2 separate regions of the Homo sapiens genome follow, and region 2 is linked to region 1. A link means that fine-mapping ties the variant in region 1 to the expression of a gene that starts in the linked region. Tissue or cell type: whole blood. Region 1 holds a variant in brackets; the other region holds the start of a gene. All regions are shown on one strand. Distances are from middle to middle.

Region 1 (8,338 bases):
TGGCCTGTAAAAGCCAGTGATGTGACTATGAAACCAATCCACTCATAGCACTGCACGTGCTTTTTGGGAGGGAGCTGGCTCAGAGAGGAAAGGCCATCAGCACTGGTCCCCCCAGTAGGATCTAGGCACCATGGGGAACCTGCGGGCCCCTCCAGCCCCTCCACCATGTGTCCTGGGGGTAGCCCTATCCCCCTGGGCCTCAGTGGCGCCGTGTGCACTGGCTCTGGGGGTGCCAGGCTGCGTCTCACCATCGGGCCAGCCCAGAAATAGCTGTGACCTTCCGCAGCCAGCTTGGCAGCGCTTGGGGCCAAGAGGCCTACGTGCATGCCGGCTGAGTCCCCTCACCGTGCAGGGCTGGCTATTTTGGACGTGGCCTCCCGAGGCCAGGTCAGAGCTCTTTCCCGCGGTTCCTCAGGCCCCTCTGACGTGCGTCCACTAGAGCCTCGGCCAGTGGCCCTGGCTAGCTCCATGATCTCGATCCCCCTTCCTGTCCCCGACCCCACGGGCCCTGGGTGGCACAGAGGAAGGGATCCCAGGGACTGAGCACAGGGTGACCGCGCCTGCTGGGGCTGACATGGAGTGTAGGGCTTGGCTGTTTTAAGAAGAAAATGCAGAGAAAGTGCCCACCCTGGGTAGGCCCTGAATCCTGTCTCAGCCTCTCAGAGCTCTCGCTGACTGCACAGCCTGAGCCTCGGTTTACTCATCCACAAAATGGGGTGATGGGCGCCTTCCAGGACTGCTCTGAGGATGGACATGGGCATTGCCTGTGCTGAGGGCACCACGCGAGGCCACTACACAGAGGGGTTCTTGGGCCTTCTCCGCCTTCCATGGGACTGGACACTGGGTTCAGGGAGGGGCGTCATGGGTATATGGGGGTGCTGCGCTGGGCAGTGGCTAAGCGTGGGCTCTTCCTTTTCTGTGACACAGCAGAGGTGTACATGCCTGCTGCCCTGTCCAGGGCGTCTGGGTATGGTGGAAGTGGCCCCAAGGTCCAGCCACCCTCAGGGACCACAAGCTTCCTGGACACCCTGCTGACAGGGTCCCACTGTGGAGGAACAGGCCGGCCCAGCTCCCCACCTCCCAAGTGAGCATGGGTGGCTGGGTGGGCGTGAGGGATTGGCTCCCCTGCTAGAGGGCAGAACTCCTGTTCCCGTGAAGGTGCTGGGTGGGGTGTGAGTCTGCTCCTGGGTTTGGGGTCAGGCATGCCAGGAACAGCAAGCAGGGGCTGCCTGCCTGCCTAGTGCTGGCTGCATGCTCATGGCCCTCAGGGCCCTGTCCCCTGGATGGTCCAGGGGTCCCGAGGAGGAGCCATGGCCTCTTCTCCGTGGAGAGGCCCTGTGGGCCCAAGGCCTGGCTCCATCCAGGCAGGCACATGGAATTCAGCCAAACTCTGGATCCTTTCTGCAGAGCAGGCTTAGCTTGAGCCCTCCCACAGCGAGCTCGCCCACTGCCCACCCTGCCCTCTCAGCCTCTGTGACAACTCTGTGGGCACTGCCAGGGGCAGTTCCTGTGTATTCTCATCTGGTGATGGGTTCATAATTCTCATGTTGTGTGGGTGACTAACAAGGTCTGGGAGCTCAGGAGAGGGGCCCAGAGGCACACAGCATGCACGGGACGGTTTTGCAGTTCCCAGGGGGCACCTGGGGTGGAGGCTTAGCCAGGCCCAGTGGGCTCAGGGCTGGCCTCATGCCCTTCCCCTGTTGTGGACCACTTTGGGGCCTCTGGCTGATGCTGGTGGGTGAGGACCTTCCTGGGCAGCCTCCTCCGGCCAGCAGGAGGGACCATCAGGCCATGCGGACCCTTGGAGAGCTTGGGGGTCGGTTCCTGCCCTGGAGTCAGCTGTGTCTGCTGAGGGTCCACTGGTGTGTGGCACAGAAGGGGTAGGGGCTGTGCCTGGTGTGCCAGGGAGGCCCTGAACTCTCCGGGAGGCCAGATCAGGGGCCTCCTCTGGGCCTGCTGGGGGCCTCTGCATTCTTGGCAGGGCCTCAGGGACTGGGGCGGGGAGAGGCTCCTTCTCAGAGGCTGTGAGCTCCGAATGAAACTCCATGCCCTCCGGGACACCATGCCCACTTCTGGGTACTGGCCTTCAGGGGCCTTGGATGTGGGTGGCATGGCACTGGCTAAATGGGGCCCAGGAGGAAGGCAGCAGGACCGTGGGCATGCAGGCCTAATGCCAGGGCCAGGGCAGGCTTCATGTGGGCTTCCTCCTGTCTGGAATCCTGGAGCCGCACAATTTCCGACCCAACACCCCGTACTCCAGAGCGACTGGCTCTTAACGGAAGCTGCTGCTGGCAGGTGTGTTATAACAGAGCTCTGGGGTGGGAGGCTGGGGGCAGGGAGGGTTAGGGCCGTCAGAACACGGCTCCCTCCTGCCCAGGGCAAGGTGGGGCCACGTGTGCGCATGTGAGTGGGGCACCTGGTCTGGGTGTGGCCTGGGAACCTGCATGTTACAGACGCCATGGCTTTGGAAACACTCAGGAGTCCAGCTGTGTCTGTTCCAAGATGGGTCAGGGTTGCCGCAGGGAGGGCAGTGACTGGTCCACAGCTGGTGTGGCTGTGCCATCCTCCTTCCAGCCTGGGCAGAGGCCTTCCAGGCAAGATGAAAGATGCGGTATGGACAGGAGGACATGGAGGATTCAGGGCTCTTGGTGTAAAGATGCTGTGTGGACAGGAGGACATGGAGGATTCGGGCTCACGGTGTCCCTGGAGGCTCTGGTGGGCGTCGTGGGGCTGGACTGCTGCGGGGCAATGGGGTCCCCATCTTCCCGGCACAGGCATCTGATCTGGTCATCTGTTTCTGTGGCGTGTGTGTGTGTGTGTGTGTGTGCACGTGAGCACACATCTCTGTGTATGCAGGTCAGTGTGTGTGCTTGCCAGAGCTTCCCATTGGGCGGTTTCCACACTGGCTTCTCAGTCATCCTGGGAGGTAAGGCATGAGCACTGGACTGGGAGTCCTGTCTGAGCCACCGACTTGGCCTGCCATTGTGGAGCTGTCCTGTCCACTCGCTGGACATTAGGCCATTTGTGTACAATAATCCCCTGAGATTTGTATCCTCCCATGGGGAGATCAAAAGGGGCCGAGTGTGGCCCTAGGGTCTGGGGGCCCAGCCTGGTGGGTAGACCTGGCTTCTGGGACTGTAGTGGTGGAAGGTGGCTGGGGCAGGGGAGGTTCACTCACTGGGAGGCTGGAAGAGGTGGCCCGGTAGGGAGAGAGAAGGGCAGCCAGACAGAGGGCACGTGGGAGCAGCAGCCTGGTGGCAGGTGTGTGAGTCTCTGCACCTGGCCGGGGTCTTGAGGAGCAGGAGAGGTTCGGGCAGGTGGCTGAGGAGAATGCGGGCACTGAGCTTGGGAAGAGCCCTGGACTGGGGGGGGGGTAGGGACTGTTGGGCAGCCCCAGACTGGCACAGGTGGATCGGGTGCCTAGGCAGGGGGTGGTGAGTTATGGCGCAGCTGTCTTGGTGGCTGGGGGGAGCAGGGATAAGGGTGGACTTCTTAGTGACCGCTCTCTGCCCCAGGAGGTAGAGTCCTGGGGGCTGGGCTGGCCTGAGAGACGCCCCCTCATCCTTTCCAGGGTGAGGTACGAGGGCTCCGCCCCCTCCTGATATCACCAGGCCTAGGGCAGCATCCTGATGGGGGAGGGGCAAGTGACCCGGGCCCTGGACTGCAGGAACAGCCCCTCCTCCACTGGTGGAGTTCCCACTTCCTGCGGAAGGAACTATGTTAGAAGTTGTGTATATGGGGTGGGGGTTGGGTGTGGGTGGCGGGGGGCCTGGGTGGGGTCCACTGAGTCGCCTCCCCTGTC[T/G]CCCTGCACTTCCTCCTGGAGGAAATGGGGACAACAGGATGAAGTGAGGGCCTGCTGAGCCCAGGGCTGCCACCTGGGAGTGAAGCCGGGGCAGGCTGCAGGGTCCGGGCCCTTCTGTGTGGGCAGGTGGAAGTGGTGGGGATGCAGTGAGGCTCCCTCCAGCGCGGCAAGGAACGGGCCCTGGGACCCTCTTCCCAGCCTGCAGCAGGCAGTGGGGAGACAGGCCGGAGCCCTGGACAGCCCCCAGTCTTTCCCCACCCCAACTACAGGGCCTGGGTCTCCGTGCGCCATCCCCCTCCCGCCCCCTCCCGCTCGCTCCCGCTGTTACAGGGCCCTAGGGACCGCCCTGTCCCCCGTGGGCCCCAGAGCCCAGGCCAGCGCTGGAGGGACCCTCCTGCCCTCTGGCCGGGACCAGGGTGCCCGCCGCAGCCCTGGGACCCTGCGGCCCCGGTCCCTATTCGAGGCCCCAGCCGGAGCGTTCCGGGATCCTTCGGGGGAGTGCCCAGCCCCGCGCCCCCGCCTCCCACATGACTCCGGGTGGGCCCTTTTGACGTGCGCGGAGGGCGGGGGGCAGGGGGCGGGGCGGGGGGGCAGGGGGCAGGGGTGGTGAAGGGTAGGGGGCGTGGCGGGGAGAGGGGATGGGGTGGGGTGGGGACTGGGGTGGGGTGGGGTGGGGAGAGGGTGTGGGGTGGGGTGGGGAGAGGGTGTGGGGTGGGGTGGGGAGAGGGGATGGGATGGCATGGGGGGATGTGGCAGTGAGGAGGCTGGGCCCTTGGAGCTGCCGAGTGCAGGGGCCTGGAGGACTCCGGGAAGGCGTCCTAGTGCATCAAGCGTGGGCTTGGCCTGCTTGGGTCTCCCCTCCTGGCCCCCCTAGCAATGGGCGGACTTGGGCCCGCTCTGGGAGGATTCCAGGAACGGCTCCTGCCTGGTTATAAATAGACTTCTCCGAAAGGCCTGGGGCTGTGCCAGCTGCAGCAGGTGCCTCCCAGGCCCGGCCAGAGGGCCCCAGGCAAGGGGGTGGAGCCCGGGTGGGGGTGATGAGGATGCTGGGGTCCACTTTTGTAGCGCCAGAGGCGACGGGCTCTGTCTGGTTGTAGCATCACAGAGCTTGATGGGAACTTTCACTCTGAGACCCCTTTTATGGATAAGAAAACTGAGGCTGGGGGGCAGGAGCAGCTTACCCCAGAGGTCCTCTCTCCCAGAGGGCTAGGGTGGGGATAAGCAGGGTCTCGGGGGCAGCAAGACCCAGCTCCAAATGTGGTTTTTCTGCCTTCTGGCTGTGTGACTCAGAAGGGTTGCTCAGCTTCTCTGTGCTGTTATGGTTTGTCAGTGCAGTGTGGCAGGTGTGTGTCTTGCTTGTGGAATGCAGTGTCTAGCCTGGTATCCTTAGAAAGTGGCTGAGGTTGGAGATTGGTGGGGCAGAGTCCCTGAAGCTGACCCATTCTTGCCTTCAACCTTCAGGGAGACGCTGCTGGAAGTGGTGAGCTGAGAGCACTGGGCAGGAGTCAGAGCCTAGCGTCTCCCTGTGGAGCTGGGTGCACCCACGTGGGTGGGTGCCCTTGCCAGGGAGCTCACACCCTTGGGGGTCCATGAGCTGGCAGGCAGGGCTACCTGGCTTGGTGTGCCCTTGGGTGGAGGCTCCCATGGGGCCCTTCAGACTGGGCACAGCCCTCCTGTCCTCTGCTCCCCAGCCTGCTTGCCCACCTGGAGGTGGGAGGAGGCGAGGGTTGCCGGCACAGCTGGGCCAGGCTGATGGTGATGTTTTCTGGAAGTGTGGGTGGGGAGAGCCTGGCAGGGGGAGGGGGGGTCGTGCTCTCAGCTGGGCCCCTTGATGACCTCAGATTGCAGGGACCAGGTTGTTTGAGAGCTGCAAGCAGGGCCACACCTCCAGGGACCCTGTGCTGGGGGTACCACCCTTGCCGCTCCACCCTGCTCTGAGGGCCCTGGGTGGCCAGGGCGGGCACAGAGTGGGTGGTGATGCCAGCTGCATCCCTGGGGTTCATAGTCTGGGGAGCACATGAGTTCCCGGCACAATGCTCCCAGGAGGCAGAGCCAGGAGTCGCAGGGAGGCGTTTGCTTGAGAGGGTCTGGGAGGGCTTCCTGGAAGAGGGGGCATCAGTGCCGAGCCTCAGAGTTTGTGGAGCCCGCCGCCTGGCTGAATCCTGCCTGCCGGTGTTACCTCAGGGTGTTCCTCGTTGCAGTGCCTCAGTTTCCTCACCAGTACGCTAGGAGAGACCAGCGTAGCCAGCCACAGCGGGGTCGTGAGGATTAAGTGAGGGGACAGCAGTGTCTGGCACGGTGGGTGCTGAGTAAATTCATGGAGGAGTGCCCGGGCGGTGGGGCTGGTGGGCTGGGCAGGGGGTCTGAACTGGAGGGACTCGGGCGCCCTCCTCCTCAGGGTGCAGGACAGCACCTGCACGGCGGGGCCGCATTTCCATTTCCAAAGCTGGGCGCGCTCTGTCCAGGCCTCCCCACCAGGAGCGCGGCCCGGCGGCTCCTGCCCTCCGGACCCCCAGCCCACAGGCCCGTGCAGCCCCATGAGGGGGCCAGGGGGAGCTCCGAGGTTCTAGGGAGGGCGCGCACCGGGAGAGGGCGCCGGGCCGGCCGGCGGGAGGAAGGAGGGGTCCCGGGCGGCAGCGCCCCCGGCCCTCGCCGCGCCCCGCACTTCCCTTTCCTGGCTGGGCTTCCTCTTCCCCGCGCCCGCCCTGCGCGGCCCCTTTGTTTCCCGGGCAGGGCGCGGCTATATTTAGGCGGCAGGTGTGGGAGCCCCCGGCAGCCGGGTCGCCCGCCGGTCACGCCCCCCACGTGACGCCCGGGCGCTATAAATAGCCGCAGGCGGCGGTGGCGGCAGCGCCTGGAGCCGGCTCCGCGGCGGAGGGGCGGCGCCCCGACCCAGGGCCAGCACCGTGGGCACCGCCAGGCCGGCGCGTATGGAGGCGGTGGGACGCCTGCGGCGCGGGTGAGCCTGGCAGGTGGGGACGCGGCGGACCCAGGCCTTCCGGGACCCCAGCCCCGCCGGGGAGGAGGTGGCGCCCTCCGGAGGGCTGGGCGGGAGCCCCGCTGGCACCCAGGGAGGGGGCCGCGCCCCTTACCACGACCCCACCCGCGACTGGTTCCCCGGGACTCCCCAGAGCGCCCGCCTCAGCCCTGACCGCGGCGCAGCTTACTTCTCCTGAGACCCGCTGAGCCCCGGGCCTCCAGCCTCCTCCCCCAAAATCACAGGGGGCGCCCTGTCTGAAGCGGGGGCTGGATTCAAACTTCTTAAGCTGCTGTGCCATCGGGAAGGAGGGCGGTAGCCTCCCTGAACCTCGATTTCCTCTTCTGTGCAGGGCGCTGCGTGTTGTTCCTGCCTCCTAGATTTGAGCCAGAGAGAACCCAGTTAACTGGACGCCTGGTGTGGCCCTGGTGGAGAATGTTCTCCCCTCTCCCTGGCTTGTTTCCTCATCTCGCAAACAGGGACAAGGATGGACTCTCCCTTAAAGGGTCTTGAGAAATAGCTGAGGGCTCTGGGCCTGCTGGCCCGAGGAGGCTGAGCCAGATCTTGGGAAGGGTTCTGCAGGGCTTGGTAGCAGGAGGGAAGGAGGTAGCAGGAGGGAAAGAGGGGCCACGGCTGCCAGTGGGTCCCCGTGCTGTGGGCCGCGGGCCTGGTGGGGGTGGTAGCGACTCAGGACACATGGAGGCAGGGGCAACCTGTCCCCATTTCGCAGATGGGAAGCCTGAGGCTTTGGCTTCAGGGAGTTCTCAGTGCCCATCCCTGGGGATCCTTAACCCTTGCTCTCAGGGCCCTACCTGGTGACCTCACTGGGGGCGTGTGGTTATGGAGGGGTTTTCTCCCTTGGGGGACAGCCACCAGGCAGGGCAGAGCCACATAGTGGTGCCAGGGCATCATTGCTTTGCTCTCACCTGGGGCAGGGGTAGGGGCCCTAGGCTGCAGAGACAAGTGGGATGTGTGGCAAGACCCTGGTCCAGCCTCTCCCTGGACCCCTAACCCCATTCTAGCCTGGGCTGTGACCCCTGAGCGTAGCCCAGGCTAACCCCCTGATTCCGGCAGATGTGTGGCATCCTTAGGCCTTCAGTGGGGGGTAGTGTGGGGTGGTTCGGAGCCTCCTCCCTCCCAGTAGCCTGCAGCCCTGAGGACCTGTGCAGGGCCACTAGGCAGCAGGTCCAGGCCACGTGCTGGTGCCTGTGGGGTCTTCCTGGGTCCCTGGCAGCTGTAGGTGTGAGGGGTTGGTCAGCCCCTCAGGGAGAGGCCCAATACTGTGGTTTCTCTGGTGCTTTTCTTCCTTTCTTTCTGTAAACATGAGCTCGGCTCCCGTGTGCACACACACAGGGACATCCTGCTGCCCCAAGAGGGACCCAGGTGTTTGTGTGCTGTTAGCACGTGGTGGCTTCCCTCACCCACACTCAGAGCCTGTGCTCCCTCCAGTCGGGCAAGGTGGGGACTGGCGGGACCAGGGACAGTATCCTTGTCTCCACCTTTACCTCCTTCTGGGGGTCCCACCCCACCACCGGTTTTTTTTTTTTTTTTTGAGACGG
Region 2 (8,000 bases), 23 kb before region 1:
TCCCAAGAGCCCTGTGAGGTTGGAGCTATTACTATGACATTTATAGATGGGGAAACTGAGGCCAGGAGAGGTCAAAGTGTGCAGCCCAGTGATGGGGGCTCAAGAGCTGCTGCTGGTGCCATTAGCCCACCCATGCCCTCCGTGGCTGGATCTAGGTCCCCCAGCCTGGGCCCCTCCTGTAGGGCCCTGCTGGGCTGGAGGAGGCTTTCCAGAAATCCACTTAACGCTGACCTCGTCTTTGTCCTCCTTGGAGCTAATCTGCTAATCCTGCCAGCCCCAGTGGGCCTCACCACTGTCTAGATCGTCCTGCATGGTTGGCATCCCTCTCCAACAATCCCCCACCTGCGGGGGCCTCCTCCTGGCCATGCCTCCAGGGCTGGGCAGGTCCAGTGACTGGGGTAGGTGGAGCTGGGATTCTTTCTGTGGAACATTCCTCAATCCTGGGGGAGATTCTGGAGTCTGGAATTCAGGAGACTGGGCCTGGCTTCTGACCCCACCTTTTCACGGCTCAGCCATCATCTCTGAGGCCCCGTTTTCTCCTCTGTAAAACACGATCACTTTGAGCTCTCTTCCGGCTATGAAATCCCAGGATTCTCCCCAAGCCTGTTCATGCCCGGCCCATTCCACTCACAGCAGTTGGACAGCTCTGGTTTCACCGTGCCTGGGTTTGAATCTTGATTCTGCTTTCGCTTAGCTTCTGCTTCCTAATCTGCAAAATGGGGGTGTCAGGGATTCCTCTGCAGGGCTCAGTGTGGACTTGGTGGGTGGGTGTAAGTCCCTGGCATGTGGTCAGCACTCGGTGAATGTCTGAGAACTGAAATGAATCCAGCATGGAGGAGCCTCCTCCTTTGCTCCCGACTCCCTGCAGGATGGTAAGAGCGTGGGGAGGAAGGAGGCTCCAGCCTCTCGGGAGCCCACTCACCCCAGCAAATTTGGGTGGCTGGGATAGAAACCTCTCTGAGATTTTGGGCAGGAGAGGAGGAAAATAGCATGAAACAGGCAGGGGGTGTTGGTGCTGCTCAGGCTAGATGAAGCCAAACATTTATTTATTAATGCTTTTTTTTTTTTTATCTTTTTTGAGACAGGCTCTCGCTCTTTCACTTAGGCTGGGGTGCTGGCGGGATCAGGGCTTACTCTAGCCTTGTCCTCTTAGGCTCAGGTGATCCTCCCACCTCAATCTCCAAGCTGGGACTATAGGAGCATGCCACCATGACTGGCTAATTTTTTATTTTTTGTAGAGATAGGGTCCCACTATGTTACCTAGGCTGGTCTTGAATTCCTAGGCTCAAGTGATCCTCCCGCCTCAGCCTCCCAAATTGCTGGGATTATAGTGTGAGTCACTGTGCCCGGCCTTAAGCTAAACATTTAAAAAATAAGAATTAAAATGCAGCCACAGTGAAACGGGAAGGGGCTGCTTTTACAGGTGCTGAACTTCCCGGCAATAGAAGCATTTAATGGGAGGTTCCCTTTTTCCTAGGACCTCAAAGCTGGAGTACCAGGGATGTTGCCTTGACCTTCCCATGTGTGGATTTCTGCTTGAACACACCAAGTACAGGACACCCTGTTTAGCAGCTAAACGTGGGAATTGCACCAGCTTTACTCCCAACTTGCTGGGCAATCTTCGGGAGTTGCTGACCTTCTCTGTGTCTCATCAGCAAAACAGGGAGAACACTAGCTCTCCCAACATGGGCTGTGTGAGGACCAAATGAGCTGAGGAGCCCAGATTTGAACCCGGGTCTGCAAGGTTATGTCCTCTGAGCCATCCCCACCCCTGCCCTTAAGGACCAGGGGCCTCTGGACACCATCAGCTTGCCCACCTGTCCAGGATTTGCACGCACCTGCTCGGTGCCAGATGCTGGGCACTGGGGACAAACCAGGTGAGGTGTGGACCGTGACCTGTGTTGTCACTGATTGGGGGACTTTCTGGCAGAGTGGAGAGTGCAGTGGGCTGAGAGACAGGATGGCCAGTGGAGACTGAGCTCTCAGAGGCGGCGGCAGCTGATGGGGACCATGCAATGGGAAGGATGGAGGCCCTGGGATAGTCTGCGGTGAACTTCCAGGCAGAAGGAACAGCAGGTGCAAAGGCCTTTAGCTGGGAAGGAAACTCTGGGTTGGAGGAATAGCTTGCAGGCGCTCTGAGAGAGGCTGGCAGCCAGGTGGCAGGGAGGCAGCCCAGTCAGGTGGTCTTGGGACAGTTTAGGGTCTCTGGCCTTCACCAGTGAGGTGGTGTCTGGAGACTTTTGCAGACGAAGGCAGCTCTCACTCCCATCTTCCCGGGGTCCCTCTGGCTGCTGAGGGTGGATGGGTGGAAAAGCATCTTTCAGGGAAGTGGAGGCAGGGCTGGAGCAGTTGAACATCTGACTGGGCCAAGGGTCCAGGGACTGGCATGGAACAGGGCTGGGTGGGTGAGGCCGCCTGGGAGACCCCAGCTTGCCTCTGTTTCCCCCTGTACTGGGGCCTCCTGCGTGAACCAGCACTGGTTTTTCCAGTAACTGGAGCCACAAGCCTCCCTAGGAACGGCTGACCCATAAGAGGACGTCCTCAAGGTCCCCAAGGGCTAGAGGCTGAGATGCCGCCTTCGCCTGGGCGGGCCTCGCAGCCTGGAGGCAGGCGGTGGTGCAGCTCGGGCAGGCCCCGTCCACACGCCTCCCCGCTCTTCTGAGCACCACGCGTCCCGTGGGCTCCCTACCCGTCCTGATAACACGGCGGTCCGGGGGCCTCGAAGCCGGTCTGACCCCAAGTACCCGGGCCAGGCGGCTGCCGTCTTGTCGCCCCAGCCCATCCCCTCAGCCAGCCCGCCTGGCGGCACGGGACCTAGCCCCAGTCGACTTAGGGGGAAACTGAGAACTCCAGAAGTTTCGTGAACTCCCTGGCTTCGTCCGCATCCCGCCCTCTGCCTCTTCGCTCGGGCTTCAAAACTGCCCCTCCGACGCCCGCCTGCCCCAGGCCGACCTGGCCTAGGCGCCCGGCAGGCACAGGAGCCAAGGTCAGTCCCCGAGGCCGCCCGCGCGACCGGAGCCGCCTCCTCCCAGCCCAGGGGCGGCCTCGGGGGCGGCGGGCGCGCGGCCGCGGCGTGGGGAGCGCTCCCATTGGGCCGTGCCCCCACGTGACCCAGCGGGTCCGGCGCGCGCCCTAAGCCGGTGGAGCCGCGGCCGCGCCTGTGCGCGAGGGCGCGCGCGTCCCGAGCCCTCCACCCGTCGTGCCGGCGCCGCCCGGACCGCCAGGTCAGTCTCCTCCGCGCCCGCTCGGGGCGGGGGCGCGCGGCGCTTTGTGGAGGCGCGTGGGGGGCCGTCCGCGCGCGAGCCCGCCGCCCGCTCCGGGCACGGCTTCGGGGCCGCGCAGCCGGGAGGGCCGCCGCCTTCCCCCTGCCCGCGCGTCCCGGGACCCTGCGCCTGGCGGCCGATCCGGCGGGAACGTGGGCCTGGAGGCTGCCACGTGCCGGGGCCGAGCCTCAGGAGGCCGCTGTTTCCCCAGGCGAGCCACAGAACACCCCTGGCTGGAAGGGGGTGACCCGCTCCCGTTTCTGGGTGCGCGGGAGACCTCCTACCCTGAGTTCATCCTGCGCAGGGTCCCGCCCAGGATCTGGCTCTGCCCCCATTCACGGCTCATTTTCCTCAGCTGCACAGTTTGGGGGGCTGGAACCCCACAGCCTTCCGTGCCTCCAGGGCGGGTCGTAGATGTCAGTGGAGGTCAGGGGAAAGCAGAGCGTCAGGTCTCAGGCCGGGTGGAGTCCGCCTCAGACCATACCAGTGTTGGGACTCGGGCGGCGCCTCAGCCCTCCAAGCACACCCCGGTAGAATCAGGTCAGCAGCCTTGATCCACGTGCCTCAGGGATTAAACGGGTGACTCCTGACACGCCCCTGGGCAGCTGGTGGCCCAGGGGTGGGGTGGTGGCATGCTTAGCTCCAAGTGGGCAGAGCAGTTTCACCCTGCCGGTTCCCGGAGGGAAGCCCTTTATGAGGGAGGCTTCCCTGGCCCTCTGTGATAGCGGCTCCAAGGGCAGCGTGAGGTCCAGGCTAGCTGGTCACAGTGTGTGCCCGGGCACCCTCAGCCAAGACAGAAAGGCACGTGCTGCACCCCCTCTCTCTGCCTGCGGGCTCTGGGGTGTGCCCCGCACACGATGGTGGGTGTTGGGCATCCACCTAGTCTGTGGACCCTGGGGGCCCTGCTCCCAGGTTGGAGCAGTGTCCTCGGCTGCAGACCAGAGGAGGTCACTGAACACAGGGTGCCTGTGGCCTTGCACAGACAGAAGCCGCCTGGCAGCCCTGTGCAGAGCCGTGCTTCACTGAGTTCCTGCAATCCTCCCAAGAAGTTCGTTAACCCCATTTCTCAGATGAGGAGACTGAGGCCCACAAAGGTGGAGTTGGTGCAGCCCCTAGCCTGCGGGGCTAAGCAGAGCCTTGTTGTCCCCATCTGCAAAGGGGGCGTTGGAGCTGCTGTAAATGGGCCCCGAACCTGTCACCTGAGTGGAATTAGGCATTGGGGATCTCCCCATCACCACGCCGGCCCCCCTCACTGTGGTTACGAAGGAGGAGAAGCTGCCCTGTGTAGGAATTCCTGGGCTGTTTCCAAATAGCCCCGCTAGGGAGCTGGTCACCCCTCAACACCCCCAACGTGTTCTCCAAGCACTTACTCTGTGCCAGGCCCAATGCTGGACCTGGAGATGGGGCATGGCTGGCTGGCTGAGCGGGGCAGGTTGCGGACAGGCCCCCGCAGGCAGTCGGCGTGATGGGAGAAAATGCAGGCGGGGATGAGATGCAGCCTCCAGGTGGTTTCCTCAGCTGCCTGCTCCTCTCTGCCTTTGCCCTCCTCCCGGAAGCTTGCGCTGACCACTGGAGTAAGGCTGGGGGCCTCAGCTGGTCCCCTCTCTGTCCCAAGTAACAGCCCAGAACATGGTGAGGGTGGCTGGCTGATGCAGTCAGGCACTGGACATGGGAGGCAGGAGGAAGGCCGGGAGGTGGGCAGCTTTCTCAGACAAGTGGGCAGTTTGGATGGCGAGGAGGTCTTGGAGGCACCATGGGTGGCTGGGCTCAAAGATGACATGAGGGCATGCTTAACAGATGCTTAACCAAATCCTGAATTGGCATTGGCCAATTTCTGTGGTGTAACTACTCCCAAGCTACACAGACGTGACTTTACTGGCTGAGGACTTGGGCAGAGGTGCACACAGTCAGACTGAGAGGGGGGCATAAGCTGGTGTGAGCCCTCCCTCTCACCGCCAGGGTGGGCAGAGTGTCCGCTGGTGCCCAATGCCTATGCACGTGACCTCCTTAGGGACTTACATCCAGATGGCGGTGATACAGCTTGGGGAGGCCTCTCCCTGGTTGGCAGGTCCTGGCGAAAGGGTGAGTTAAGTGGAAAGTGTACCAGGCTGGTGTCCAGGTGGCATTTGGCCAGAGGGGCTGAGCTGGGAGCTCCTGGGCCTGGGGCTGGCAGATAGTGGTGATTTTTCGCCCCCCAAGACCTTGGGCTTGCCTTGTTCCATGAAGGTCCCAAATCTGACCAAAGGCTGTAACCAGATGGTCACTGTCCCAGACCACCCCAGGGCGCTTTCTCACCTCGAGAGCACCGTTTCTCCCCACCTCCACCCTGGCCGCCCTTGCTGTCACCTACTCCCTCTGGTCCCTGGCACCCCTCCCTGCCTGCAGTGGTGTTTCCTAGCAAGTGCAGCAGCCCGAGGCTGGGCTAGAGGCAGGAGGGCCTGGCCTCCCAGTGTCTTGCTGGATACTTGGTTTCTTGCCCCTCCGTTTCCACACCTGTAAAATGGGAGCAATGACAGGTCTTCCTGGCAGGACAGTGGTGAAGCTTGGTCACACGGGTGAACATGTGTGAGGTAAAAAAGACTTCCCATCCCTCCTTCTGACCTGGACCGGCTCGCAGGACCCATAGGCAGGGACCTGGGCAAGGTCCGAGGGCCGATGAGCCCCGTCCTCTCTGCACAGTTCAGAGTTGGGTGGGAGTGGCTGTGGGCTGCAGGAGGAGGTACTGCACTTCGCACAGTTACGTGGTCGGGTTGGCATCGCCGCCGCCTGACTTCGGCGCCCCGCGAGTTGGGTGTGTGCGGTTGGGGGCGGCCCAGAGTGTGCCCCACGCCTGCCAGTCGGGTAGGCCAGCCTCCCTGGAGAGAGGGGGGCCTCCCCAAGGTGGGACGGGGACAGGGACGGGTGCTTCCTTCCACCCAGGAGCCTGAGCAGAGGGTGGAGGGTCCTGGCAGCTACCTACGGCAGCTGAGAGCTGCGCTCTTTAGCCGAGCGGGATCAGGGCTACGTGGACACAGCCCGTGCCAGTGTGGGTGGGGCACGAGCTGTGGGTTCCGATGGCCCAGTAGGCGTTCACCTGGCAGAGAGTGTGCGCGTGTCTCCCCTCCTTGGGGCGCCTCAGGTCAGGACCCTGAGAACCTCACTTATCCTTTGAGCTGCGCCAAGGCTGTTGTACAAAAGACAGTTCAGAAAATAAGGACAGGCTGTTCCTCCCAGCCAAGGGTGTGGCCCTAAGGACCCCTAGGTGGGGCATCGCTTCCCGCCAGGCACGTGCCACTCAGTCTTGGGCTGCTTTAGTGGCAGCCTCCTGGTTTGGAAGCGGAACTGAGGGTCAGGGATGACCACATGGCTCAGGGCTCAGCTGGGGTCCTGAGAGTGGGCCCTCAGGTTTACCTTCCTCCTGGAGGGGAACTGGGGGCCATTGCCCAGTGCACCCCCACTTCCCCTTAGGTGCGTGGGCCACCCCTCCCTCCTGCAGCCCCCGTTCATCTACCCAGGATAGGTGCATGGGCCACCCCTCCCTCCTGCAGCCCCCGTTCATCTACCTGGGGAAGGTGCGTGGGCCACCCCTCCCTCCTGCAGCCCCCGTTCATCTACCCGGGGTAGGTGCGTGGGCCACCCCTCCCTCCTGCAGCCCCCGTTCATCTACCCAGTGGGGATGTCCCCTGGCTCCTCTCCTGGCATCTTCCCGGGATGTAGGGGTGCTCCCATGCCCCCCGGCTCCTCTCCTGGTGTCTTCCCCAGATGTAGGGGTGCCCTCATGTCAGGGCTTATGCTTCTAGAAGGAGTGGAAATGCAGCACAGTCATTGCTGTTGCCTGCCAAGGGCCACCCTGGCTGGGGACAGATGGGGCTGCCTCCCCTCTCCCACCCTGTCCTGGCCACCTGCCCCCGCCAACCCTGCCACTGGCTCAGAGGAAGCAGGCCTAACCTGATGTGTAACCCCCACCCCTGCCGTGACTGTAACCCCGTGCCATGTGAAGGTGGGGCTCCTTGGCAGTGCCTGGTGATTGCGGTACAGCCAGAACCGGCCCCATTATCTGGGCTGTGGGTGCCATTGGTCAGGACCGTGATGGACTCATACGTAAAACTTGATGCATTTTAACTCCCTTCATCCTAGAGGATTGAGACCTCTGGCGGGTAAGTGTTCATATTACCGTCCTGCCCTAGAGCCAGGGAAGGACCCTAGGGGAGAAGTGACGTGCCAGGGTCACTGCTGGGAGGAGAGCAGGAATTTGAACGCTGGCCATGCCTCCTTTTTGGGGAAAGGTCAGTAAATGGGCAGGGGAGGGTGCTGGTCATTTGGGTGATGGTGCCAGTGGGGTGAGCAGCTCCAGGTCATCAGGTGGTATGGAATCTGGCCCCGGGCAGCCCGTCCAGCATTCCTCTCTCACCGAGCCCACAGCCCTGGAGCACCTACTGTGTGCCTGCTCTGGCCCACTGGGAACAGGACAGTCCCGAGCCCTGCCCCGAGGAGCTGGCGCCAAGTGGAGCAGCTGCACCACAGGCACACGGGGGACAAAGGGCACCGCTGATGATTTGGCCAGGAAGAGATGAGGTGGGGATGGGGGCTACAGGGTGGGGAGACGGTGGCCTCGGGAAGGGCTAGCTTGGCCACGCCAGCTTGGTCATGTCACCTTCTGAGTCTCAGTGTTCCCTTCTCACGTGGGACAAGACCACGCATAACCCGAGGGGCTGCATGTGTGGAGCCGACAAGCTGACGTGCGGGTCCTGAGTGCAC

Evidence for each region. PIP is the estimated chance that this variant, and not a neighbour inherited with it, causes the effect.
Region 2: PTP4A3 starts here. The variant in region 1 is fine-mapped to the expression of PTP4A3 in whole blood (TOPMed, PIP 0.96). The same link has a PIP of 0.9 or more in blood mononuclear cells.

Annotation. Positions count from the first base shown.
Region 1 is chr8:141,411,258-141,419,595 of GRCh38, forward strand. All of the region lies in intron 1 of PTP4A3 (protein tyrosine phosphatase 4A3), which reads left to right. Among named protein-coding and RNA genes, the nearest start is that of ASTILCS, 23 kb to the left of the region's middle. RefSeq lists enhancers at 1-4,995, 709-1,556, 3,477-4,436. The variant T/G (reference allele first, on the strand shown) is at 3,803.
Region 2 is chr8:141,388,861-141,396,860 of GRCh38, forward strand. PTP4A3 (protein tyrosine phosphatase 4A3) reads left to right here and starts at 3,161. Exons shown (of 6, transcript NM_032611.3): 1 at 3,161-3,224. ASTILCS (antisense transcript of PTP4A3, liver carcinoma survival associated) reads right to left here and starts at 3,761. Exons shown (of 2, transcript NR_187488.1): 1 at 3,548-3,761; 2 at 1,008-2,291. RefSeq lists an enhancer at 2,233-2,853.